Linked DNA regions of Homo sapiens. The protein of the gene in region 3 purifies or fractionates together with the protein of the main gene of each other region. This does not show direct contact. Each region holds a gene or a part of one and is shown on either strand. Other genes may lie near its edges.

Evidence for each region.
Region 1: the proteins of NR1H3 (region 3) and DDI2 purify together in Homo sapiens (affinity purification with mass spectrometry; 2 studies listed by BioGRID and IntAct, with this or other methods). This does not show direct contact.
Region 2: the proteins of NR1H3 (region 3) and AKIRIN2 purify together in Homo sapiens (affinity purification with mass spectrometry; one large-scale study listed by BioGRID and IntAct). This does not show direct contact.

What each region holds. Positions count from the first base shown.
Region 1 is NC_000001.11:15,648,415-15,652,066, reverse strand, and holds part of DDI2 (protein DDI1 homolog 2), read right to left. Parts: intron 2,348-3,652; coding exon 2,244-2,347; intron 362-2,243; coding exon 172-361; intron 1-171. UniProt on the Homo sapiens protein: Aspartic protease that mediates the cleavage of NFE2L1/NRF1 at 'Leu-104', thereby promoting release of NFE2L1/NRF1 from the endoplasmic reticulum membrane.
Region 2 is NC_000006.12:87,678,082-87,681,733, forward strand, and holds part of AKIRIN2 (akirin-2), read right to left. Parts: coding exon 3,539-3,652; intron 1-3,538. UniProt on the Homo sapiens protein: Molecular adapter that acts as a bridge between a variety of multiprotein complexes, and which is involved in embryonic development, immunity, myogenesis and brain development.
Region 3 is NC_000011.10:47,260,869-47,264,520, reverse strand, and holds part of NR1H3 (oxysterols receptor LXR-alpha), read right to left. Parts: intron 3,281-3,652; coding exon 3,072-3,280; intron 2,975-3,071; coding exon 2,795-2,974; intron 2,603-2,794; coding exon 2,503-2,602; intron 1-2,502. UniProt on the Homo sapiens protein: Nuclear receptor that exhibits a ligand-dependent transcriptional activation activity.

The DNA.
Region 1 (3,652 bases), on a different chromosome or scaffold from region 3:
AAAAAAAAGGAAGATCAAAGAAGGAGGTTAAGAAGACAAATAATGAACACATCTACTACTGGACCATGAGACTAATTAAAAACTGGAAAGGTTCCTACCCCTTCTGAAGCCCACACTTCCCGGGCTTACCCATCAATAACAAGTATTGAAGAGTTTGGCCATCCCAAATACCTGCATCCTCTGCTGATTTTTGAAGGGCTTCTGCTAATTCTTGGTCTGCAATCTCCTCTGGCCGTACATCCTCTCTTCCAGCCCCATATGCCAACCGGGCACACTCTGGTAGCTCTCCCTCAGGAAGAAAGGTGGTCTGGGAGCCTGTGGTGCCGATCACGAGTACATTTTTCTTCAGGTCGATGGAACACTTGGAAGAAAGAAACCAAAGAATAATAGCAGATAAAACACCATGCAGAAAAATTATGCTCCTTAATTTAAAACTCCAATCACAAATGGCCAGGCACGGTGACTCATGCCTGTAATCCCAGCACTTTGGGAGGCTGAGGAGGGCAGATCACCTGAGGTCAGGAGTTCCAGACCAGCCTGGCCAACACGGTGAAACCCCACCTCTACTAAAAATACAAAAATTAACCAGGCGTGGTGGCACATGCCCATAATCGCAGCTACTTGGGAGGCTGAGGCAGGAGAATCACTTGAACCTGCGAGGCAGAGGTTGCAGTGAGCCAAGATTGTGCCACGCAAGGCAATCTCCACAGTATTCTTTACTCCATGCTAATGCTAACTTCCTTTTTTGTGTATTTTATAACTACTTAATAGACAGTTGTGCACATATATGATTTACATCTATAAAGTTGGAGACTGCTGGTCTATACCATGACTAAAAAAATAAGGAAAGGCAGTGACAAGGTTTTATTGATACATACACTCATTCATTCATTCGTTCTATTTAGAATGCTGTGAGCCGGGCGTGGTGGCTCACGCCTGTAATCCCGGCACTTTGGGAGGCTGAGGCGGGCGGATCACGAGGTCAGGAGATCGAGACCATCCTGGCTAACAAGGTGAAACCCCGTCTCTACTACAAATACAAAAATTAGCCGGGCGTGGTGATGGGTGCCTGTAGTCCCAGCTACTCGGGAGGCTGAGGCAGGAGAATGGCGTGAACCCAGGAGGCGAAGCTTGCAGTTAGCCAAGATTGCACCACTGCACTCCAGCCTGGGCAACTGAGCGAGACGCTATCTCAAAATAAATAAATAAATAAATAAATAGAATGCTGTGTCTTATTATCAATATGATGCATCTACTTTTACAGAAATATTTTAAAATAGTGACATAAAAATATTGATTAGCTATATTTTCAATTGTTTTTAACTCAATTTTGTTTTTTGAGATGTGGTTTTGCTCTGTTACCCAGGCTGAAGTGTAGTGGCACAATCTTGACTCACTGCAGCCTGGTCTCAAGGGATCCTCTTGCCTCAGCCTCACGAGTAGCTAATGTACCACCACGCCTAGCTAATTTTTGTACTTTTTGTAGAGACAGGGTCTCACTAAGTTACCCAGACTGGTTTCAAACTCATTCTGGCCTCAAGCAATCCTCCCTCCTTGGCCTCCCAAAATGCTGGAATTACAGGCATGTACCACTGTACCTGGCAGGTTGACTGGATATAAAACCCTACTGTGAAAAATGTGAAGTACCCAGTGAGGTCTACAGCCATACCACCCTGAGCATGCCTAATCTCATCTAAATACCCAGTGGACTAACTGCTTCTTCAACGACGGCAGTATATCTCAAATTATTGTGCTTTAGAGTAGAAAGATAAATATCAACACAAATTAATATATTAATTATGCACCCTGTACTAAATAAACACTTTCACTCCCAACATATACCTTCCTTAACCTTGAAGGTCTTCTTCCCAAGTACTGTTTGATCAGCATCAGAGAATGCTAAAGACTTACTTGACTCACACTTTTTAGTCAGGTCATCAAAAAACTACTAATCAGGATCTAACCAGAATCTGAAAATTATACAAGGGAACCAAACTGTCCTTTACAATCTCAAAACATTTGGCAAGATTTAACAGATTCACAGAGAGATTTCACAAAAACAGATTCTATCTATATCGACACATCATTTCAACCTCTGTATAGCAACATAATTTAAGGACATTTCCAGGTTTGAAAAGTCGTTATTTCTTAGTTTTCCAGTATATGTAACCAATAAAAATAATGTGATAATGACCATATTACAAAAAGCAGATGCAAAAAAAATAAGTGAAGCTCTTAATTACCTGGTGCCGTTTAAGCATGTCCAGTCCCAGAAGCATGTCCATGGGCTGTTCCTCAAGTATAGAGAAGGAACATGGCAAAAAATCTCCTTCAATCTGAACCTGAGCTAAAAAGCACATGAAGAGAAAAGGTTATTGTTACGTACTTCAAAACAGAGACGGAGTTTCGCTCTTGTTGCCCAGGCTGGAGTGCAATGGCATAATCCTGGCTGATGGCAACCTCTGCCTCCCGGGTTTAAGTGATTCTCTTGCCTCAGCCTCCCAAGTAGCTGGGATTACAGGCATGTGCCACCACGCCTGGCTAATTTTGGTATTTTTAGTAGAGACGGGGTTTTGCCATGTCGGTCAGGCTGGTCTCAAACTCTTGGCCTCAGGTTATCTGCCCACCTTGGCCTCCCAAAGTGCTGGGATTACAGGTATGAGCCACCGTGTCCAGCTGAAAAGTTCTTTTCATTATTATTTTTTGAGACAGAGTCTTGCTCTGTTGCCCAGGCTGGAGTGCAGTGGCGTGATCTCGGCTCACTGCAACCTCTGCCTCCTGTGTTCTCTGATTCTCTGCCTAAACCTTCCAAGTAGATGGGATTACAAACACGCACCACCACGCCCAGCTAATTTTTACATTTTTAGTAGAGACAGGGTTTCACCATGTTAGCCAGGCTGGTCTTGAACTCCTGACCTCACGTGATCCACCCACCTTGGCCTCCCAACGTGCTGGGATTACAGGCGTGAGCCACTGCACCCAGCCAAAAACTTTTTGTAGAGATTGAGTCTCGCTATATTGACCAGGCTGGTCTTGAACTTCTGGCCTCAGGCAGTCATCCCTGCCTTGGCGTCCCAAAGTGCTGGGATTACAAGAGTGAGCCACCACACCCAGCAGATGACCTATTTTTAAAGAACTCCTTCCTTACACAAGATATTGTGTATTTTCTGCTAAAATCTTTAATTTTCCTTTCCACATCTAGGTTTTAGGGTTGTTTTTTTTTTTTTTTTTTGAGACAGGGTCTGCTACGTTGCCCAGGCTGGTCTCAAACTCCTAGGCTCAAGCAATCCTCCCTCCCCTGCATCTAGGTGTTTACTCTGAATTTGCTTTTGTGTGGTGTGGGTAGGGTCCGATTTCTAATTCATTTCTCCCCATGGATACCTCTTGTCCCAGCAACATTTCCTAACATTTCCCCATTGCTCTGTAAGACTTCCTCTCATTGATCAATGTTCATAGAATCATGGGTTTGTTTCTACTCATATCTTCTAGATAGTCCTTTGATATCTAGAAGGCAATGTTTTTCTAGAGTATTTTGCCCATTCTCACAATATAGGGCCCACGCCAAATTTAAAATGAGCACATCCAGTCTCACAAAAAATCTACCAGGATTTTGATGGCATCTCAATGGTTCTGTGGATTAATGTGGGAGAAC
Region 2 (3,652 bases), on a different chromosome or scaffold from region 3:
AATCAGATTTTAAGCACAGCATTTCACAAGTCTTAAAACAACCAAAATAATAATTCCATCAGCTGGTGACGCTGGAAAAACACGGCAAGATGTAATTAAGATAAAAAAGACTAAAGGTGAGTAGAAAAAACTTTAAGACATAAGAAAGGTTGGGCGTGGTGCTCACCGCCTGTAATCAGGCCGAGGTGGGCGGATCACCTGAGGTCAGGAGTTTGAAACCAGCCTGGCCAACATGGTGAAACCCTGCCTCTACTAAAAATACATAAAAAAATTAGCCAGGCATGGTGGCGGGCACCTGTAATCCCAGCTACTCGGGAGGCTGAGGCAGGAGAATCACTTGAACCCGGGAGGCGGAGGTTTCAGTGAGCCGAGATCACGCCATTGCACTCCAGCCTGGGCAAAGAGAGTGAAACTCCATCTCAAAAAAATAAAAACAAAAAATTAAAAATTAAATTTAAAAAAGACATAAAACTTAAACATTACAATGATGGGTCCCATTACAAAACATCTTATCTCCTTTCTGGAAAATACCATACCATGAAGTATTTTAGTGACTAAATTACTTTCCTACACTAGGAATGAAGAACACCTCAGGTCTAAATTTAATTTTATTTAGTCCCAGAATAACAAATCATTATGCCTGTAAAAAGACACTTAGTCTTCAAAGCCATACCATTAATATCTTAAGAGCCTACACACAATGAACTGGTAATTATTCTACCATCATTTCACACCTTTAGAAAGGGGTTTTCCTTTATTGAAAAAGAAAATACGCCGGGCATGGTGGCTCACGCCTGTATTACCAGCACTTTGGGAGGCCGAGGCAGGCGGATCACCTGAGGTCAGAAGTTCAAGACCAGCCTGACCAACATGGAGAAACTTAGTCTCTACTAAAAATACAAAATTAGCCAGGCGTGGTGGCACATGCCTGTAATCCCAGCTACTTAGGAGGCTGAGGCAGGAGAATCGCTTGAACACAGGAGGCGGAGGTTGCAGTGAGCCGAGATCATGCCGTTGCACTCCAGCCTAGGCAACAAGAGTGAAACTTCATCTCAGAAAAAAAAAAAAAAAAAGAAATTTCATGTTGGCACAATAAATTTTTATGTTTAAAAAAAGAAGGTACAGCATGAATCCTTTTTAGAAAAGATTAAAAAACATTCTGGAACCTAGCTTGTGTGGTGGCTCATACCTGTAATCCCAGTACTTTCTGGGAGGCCGAAGCAGGTGGAACCCTTGAGCTAAAGGCCAGCCTGCGCAACATGGCAAACCATGTCTCTAATAAAAATACAAAGATTGGCTGGGAGTGGTGGCACGTGCCTGTAGTTCTAGCTACAGGCTAGGCTGAGGTGGAGGTTGCAGTGAGCCAAGATCTCACCACTGTACTCCAGCCTGGGCAACGGAGTGAGACCCTGTCTCAAAAACAAAACAAAACAAAACAAGACATTCTGAAATCTACTTTGCTGGAGAAGCATAAATGATTCTAAAGGTTTTTGAACTCATTGACCACTAATTCCCATTAAGTTAACAACAATTCGCATGGAAAAATAAGCTCAAGCATTGAGCTGATAATGCTATGCTCAAAACTCTATACCATAGAACTACACTGTCATCACACTAAGAATCCCAAAGCAGCTGCAACATCAGCATCTGTCAATTTCAAATATTCCTTCAGCATTTTTATACCTATTAGGATATTTTTAATAAAAGAGAAAATATTTTGTAGTAATAACATCTACTGTAATACTGCTAAAAGTATTTTATACATATTCAAGTGCACCATTCGTTACCAATTGTTTCTTCATCTCGCTCTGTGAATTTGCCCTGGTACCACCAATATTACTTACTCTCTTAACTTGCTCCTTATAACCTGCATGGCAGGAGCTAGTTAACTATGCTTATTAGAACTGTGCATACCACAATAACAAAGCCCACCAGCTTTATTCCATAATTATCCAAAGCCATCTTAATTTACTTTCACATTCCCAGCTTTGTTACTTAAGACTGCCAGTTAACTGATCTTCTAAGTAAAGTGAGTAAGGAAATAATGATCTTGGTTTCCTGCTAATACAGTCTAGTGCCCAACCCTCACCTCTATGTTTCAACCACTAATACCTGGCCCCCACAATGGGCATGGCAGTATTTAGTTTTGAACAAGTTCATGTTTCCTAATCTAATTTTATTTGACTATGTTATGGTCTTTGATTTTTTTTTTTTTTTTTTTTTTGAGTCTCATTCTGTCACCCAGGTTGGAGTGCAATGGCGCGATCTCTGCTCACTGCAAGCTCTGCCTCCCGGGTTCATGCCATTCTCCTACCTCAGTAGCTGAGACTACAGGCGCCTGCCACCATGCCTAGCTAATTTTTTGGATTTTAGTAGAGACGGGGTTTCACTGTGTTAGCCAGGATGTTCTCGATATCCTGACCTCGTGATAAACCTGCCTTGGCCTCCCAAAGTGCTGGGATTACAGGCATGAGCCACCGCGCCCAGCCGCAAATTTTTTTATTCTGCCAGGTTTTCCTTCCCTTGCTAGGGGGAGGAGAGAAAGCGTTGAACAAAGGCAACTGTTGTCACAAGAAAAGCTATTTTCCTGAGAACTTTACTAAAGATAAGAGCCACTATTGATGGCTCTCTCTCAGCAAAACCTTCAACTTTCTCTTTGCTTCAAGTAGCCCTTATTCCCCGCCCCCCCCCTTTTTTTTTTTTTTAAAAAAAAGGAAGGTTATTTGCAAACATTCCCCCCAACAAAAAGTAGGTAAAAACAGATACAGGATCAAAAAATAATAATAATCCACCTTTAGAAATCTAGCCCAATAAGACAAGTGTGTGAGGCAGGGTATGTATACAGGGATAGTTCTTAAAATACTATACCAGCAAAACTTCTAAGTTGAATTATCTATCATTAAGTGTTCAGTCATGACAAGGTACATCTATACCTAACAAAGGAGCATACAGTATTGTTATTATTTTTTTTTTTGAGACAAAGTCTCACTCTGTCGCCCAAGCTGGAGTGCAGTGGCATGATCTCAGCTCACTGCAACCTCCGCCTCCTGGGTTCAAGTGATTCTCATGCCTCAGGCTCCCGAGGGGCTGGGACTACAGGCGCGTGCCACCACGCCCAGCTAATTTTTCTATTTTCAGTAGAGACAGAGTTTTGCCATGTTGGCCAGGCTGGTCTCAAACTCCTGACCTCAAGTGACCTGTCTACCTCGCTCGGCCTCCCCAAGTGCTGGGATTACAGGCATGAGCCACCGTGCCTGGCCTATTGTTAATTTTTTTTAATAAAGGCTACAAATCATAGTACTTACAGGATGTCCACTTTGGGGATATTATATGCAGGTGGTTGTCTCTGGTTAGTGGGAATCCAGTGGTAACTCCTTATTTTGTACCATATTATTTTTTAAGATGTCATGCATTACTTGTATAAATGTTTTTTTAAAACTCAGAGGAGATACAGTAGCTTAAATGACTAAAGACAACTTGGATTAGACTTTTCCCACTCTAAATAATAAACTTTGTAAATGACAAGAAATGTTATTACCTGGTGAAGCTGGTCCACTGAGGAGAAATGCATGTGGCTGTGCATCAGAAGTACAACACGGATCTGTCTGTTGGAAACTCGTTTCTAAATGTCTTCTCTTCTGCATTCGTTTAT
Region 3 (3,652 bases):
AGGGCTGGGCTTTAAAGCTGGATAAAGTCATTAAATCACCCCATTAGGTGTCAATACATCCAGGCAGCACACCGGTTACTATAGAAGGCAAAAGGTGCCAACATAGCCCTGTTATGCCCTACAGCGAAGAGTGGCCTTCCTAGAAAGCTCACTGGGTGGACTGCGTTGGGAGAGCAAGAGGCACGTGAGCTGGCCTGAGTTATCAGAAACCAAGGAAGGCTTGATGACTGGCCTGGCCACAGATCTACCAGCCCTGAGAGTGGAGTCAGGGCATCAGCCATATTTTACAGCCCCACTCATCCAGTCGTTAAGCTACTTGGTTTCCTGCTGAAGCTCAATTCCAGTCCCTCCAAAACTCCCTCAGCCTCCCGTCCTTTCCCAGGCCAGTTCTCATGATACAAACATTATCAATAGTTGAATATGAAGAAACCCCTTCTGCGTAGCTCCCAAGCGAGCATCAGATAGAGAGCCGCAGAATGAACTAATTTTTGGAGAAAATACTTCAGATATAGGATGGAGATGGAAGCATTCGCTCTTATTGTACATCCTCTCTGGGCATGTTTGCCATGCCATGGTTCTGGTTCGTCAGAAAGTGCAATTGAAAAAGAGTAGGGGAGGGGCCTGGACAAGTGGCTCATGGCTGTAATCCCAGGACTTTGGGAGGCCAAGGCGGGCGGATTGCCTGAGCTCAGGAGTTCAAGACCAGCCTGGGCAAAACAGTGAAACCCCATCTCTACTAAAAATACAAAAGTTAGCTGAGCGTAGTGGCGCGCGCCTGTAGTCCCAGCTACTCAGGAGGCTGAGGCAGGGGAATCGTTTGAATCCGGGAGGCAGAAGTTGCAGTGAGCCAAGATCGCGTCACTGCACTCCAGCCTGGCAACAGAGTGAGAATCCATCTCAAAAAAAAAAAAAAAGAAAAGAAAAAAAAAGAAAAAGAGTAGGGGAGGCTGTGTGTGGTGGCTCATGCCTGTAATCCCAGCACATTGGGAGGCCGAGGTGGGTGGATCACTTGAGCTCAGGAGTTCGAGACCATTTTGAGACCAGCCTGGGCAACATGGCGAAACCCACTCTCTACAAAAAAATATAAAAATTAGCCTGGCATGGTGGTGCATGCCTGTAGTCCCACCTACTTGGGGGCTGAGGCAGGAGGATTACTGGAGCCCAGGTGGTTGAGGCTGCAGTGAGCCACGTTCATGCCACTGCACTTCAGCCTGCGTGACAGAGCAAGAACTTATCTCAAAAAAAAAAAAAAAGTAGGGGAAATCAGCCCCCATGATCCCCAAAGAGCACATGTGAGGAAGATTTGTTCACTTTTTGACTACTAAAAAGTTGAGTGCACTGAGTTTCAAACTTTTTTTTCAAGCTGTAAAATCTGCAAGCAAAATACTATGTAGCAGTGCAATATATAATGCAGATTTAAATGGAGCTTCTTGTTTGGCTAAAGTAAAGATGAAGGACATTCCTGTGCCTCCCTGTTTCTCCTCCAAGGTGCCATTCCATATATCTCTCAGGTTCCTTGGAATACAGTTTGAAAACCACTGACCTAAAGCAACAGAGGACAGGGGTCTATCTGGAGCAGCTGAGAGAAGCCTATCAGCATTCCAATTTTCTATCTTCAAAAAACAAGGGAGCCTTCCCTTACCAGCCACCCAAACATTGGGCCTGTGGCTCTGTAGTCACTATGGGCCTCTGACAAAAAGCACCAGTCCTGGCCAGGTTCAGTGGCTCATGCCTGTAATCCCAGCATTTTGGGAGGCTGAGGCACATGGATCACTTAAGGTCAGGAGTTCAAGACCAGCCTGGTCAACATGGTAAAACCCTGTCTCTACTAAAAGTACAAAAATTAGCTGGGCATGGTGGTGCACCTAATCCCAGCTACTTGAGAAGCTGAAGCAGGAGAATTGCTTGAACCCGGGAGGCGGAGGTTGTAGTGAGCCAAGATCACGCCACTGCACTCCTGCTTGGGTGACAGAGCAAACTCTGTCTAAAAAAAAAAATGAAACAAAAAAAAAGTACTTGGCCGGGCATGGTGGGTGGCTCACGCCTGTAATCCCAGCACTTTGGGAGTCAGAGGCAGGAGGATCACTTGAGGCCAGGAGTTTGGGACCAACCTGGGCAACATAGTAAGACTCTATCTCAATTTTTGTTGTTGTTGTTGTTGTTGCCCAGGCTGGAGTGCAGTGGTGCGATCTTGGCTCACTACAACCTCTGCCTCCCAGATTCAAGTGATTCTCCTGCCTCGATCTCCCAAGTAGCTGGGGCTACAGGCGCGTGCCACCATGCCTGACTAATTTTTTGTATTTTCAGTAGAGACAGGGTTTCACCGTGTTAGCCAGAATGGTCTTGATCTACTGACCTGGTGATCTGCCCACCTCGGCCTCCCAAAGTGCTGGGATTACAGGCATGAGCCACCGCGCCTGGCCCTCAATTTTTAAAAATAAAAAATAAAAAAAGAAGCATCTGTCCACCCAACCCCAATCCCTGTGTGATCTCAGTTCTCACCTGCTTTGGCAAAGTCTTCCCGGTTATAACTGAAATCCTTGAGGAAGGTGATACTCTCACTCCCAGGGTTGTACCTCCGAGATGTCTCCAGAAGCATCACCTGCACACAAGCAGCAAACCTCAAACGGGGACTAGGAGGGCTGGTCTTGGAGCATGGCCTCTTCCAGGGAGGCCGATTCTCCTCATCCCTGCTTCCCAGCAGATTTGGCTCTCCCAGCTCGATGTCTGGAGGCCCCTCCCACAGATAATCCCACTCTGCTTCTCCCTTCATCCCTTGCCCTTCTCCAGCCACCTCGATCGCAGAGGTCTTCAGCAGGGCAATCTGGTCCTCCCGGCTGAGCTGCAGGAAGCCGGGTAGCTGTTTAGCAAAGTCAACTATCTCCTGCACAGAGACGATGGCCAGCTCAGTGAAGTGGGCAAAGCGCTGCTGACGGGCCTCCCGGCTATGGGGATCTGGTGCCATGGGCCAAGGCTACCCAGGAGGGAAAAGGCAAAGCGCTTTGAGTCGGACATCAAGAAGCCCACTGGTGATCTGGGCGCAGCCGCCTCTCCCCAGGTGTGTCAAGTACCGTGACTCGAAGCCGGTCAGAAAAGGAGCGCCGGTTACACTGTTGCTGGGCAGCGACGAGCTTCTCGATCATGCCCAGTTGTTCCGGGCTGAGCTGGGGCAGGATTTGGGGGGGTGAGGAAGCCCTGGGGGGCAAGGATGTGGCATGAGCCTGTTCCTCCTCTTGCCGCTTCAGTTTCTTCAGGCGGATCTGTTCTTCTGACAGGACACCTAAGGACAGGGCCAAATATGAGGAAGGGAGCAGATGGGGAAAGGATGGGGCAAGGGGGTGGGGGAAAGACAGGAGGGAAGGATGGGGCAAAGGGGGTGGTTTGGGGCTCCAGAAAAGCAGACAGCACTGGGTAAAGGCAAGAAGATTTTTTTTTTTTGAAACAGAGTCTCACACTTGCTCAGGCTGGAGTGCAGTGGCATGATCTTGGCACACTGCAACCTCCACCTCCCGTGTTCAAGTGATTCTCCTGCCTCAGTCTCTTGAGTAGCTGGGATTACAGGCGCTCACCACCACACCCGGCTAATTTTTGTATTTTTAGTAGAGTCGGGGTTTCACTATGTTGGCCAGGCTGGTCTCGGACTTCTGATCTC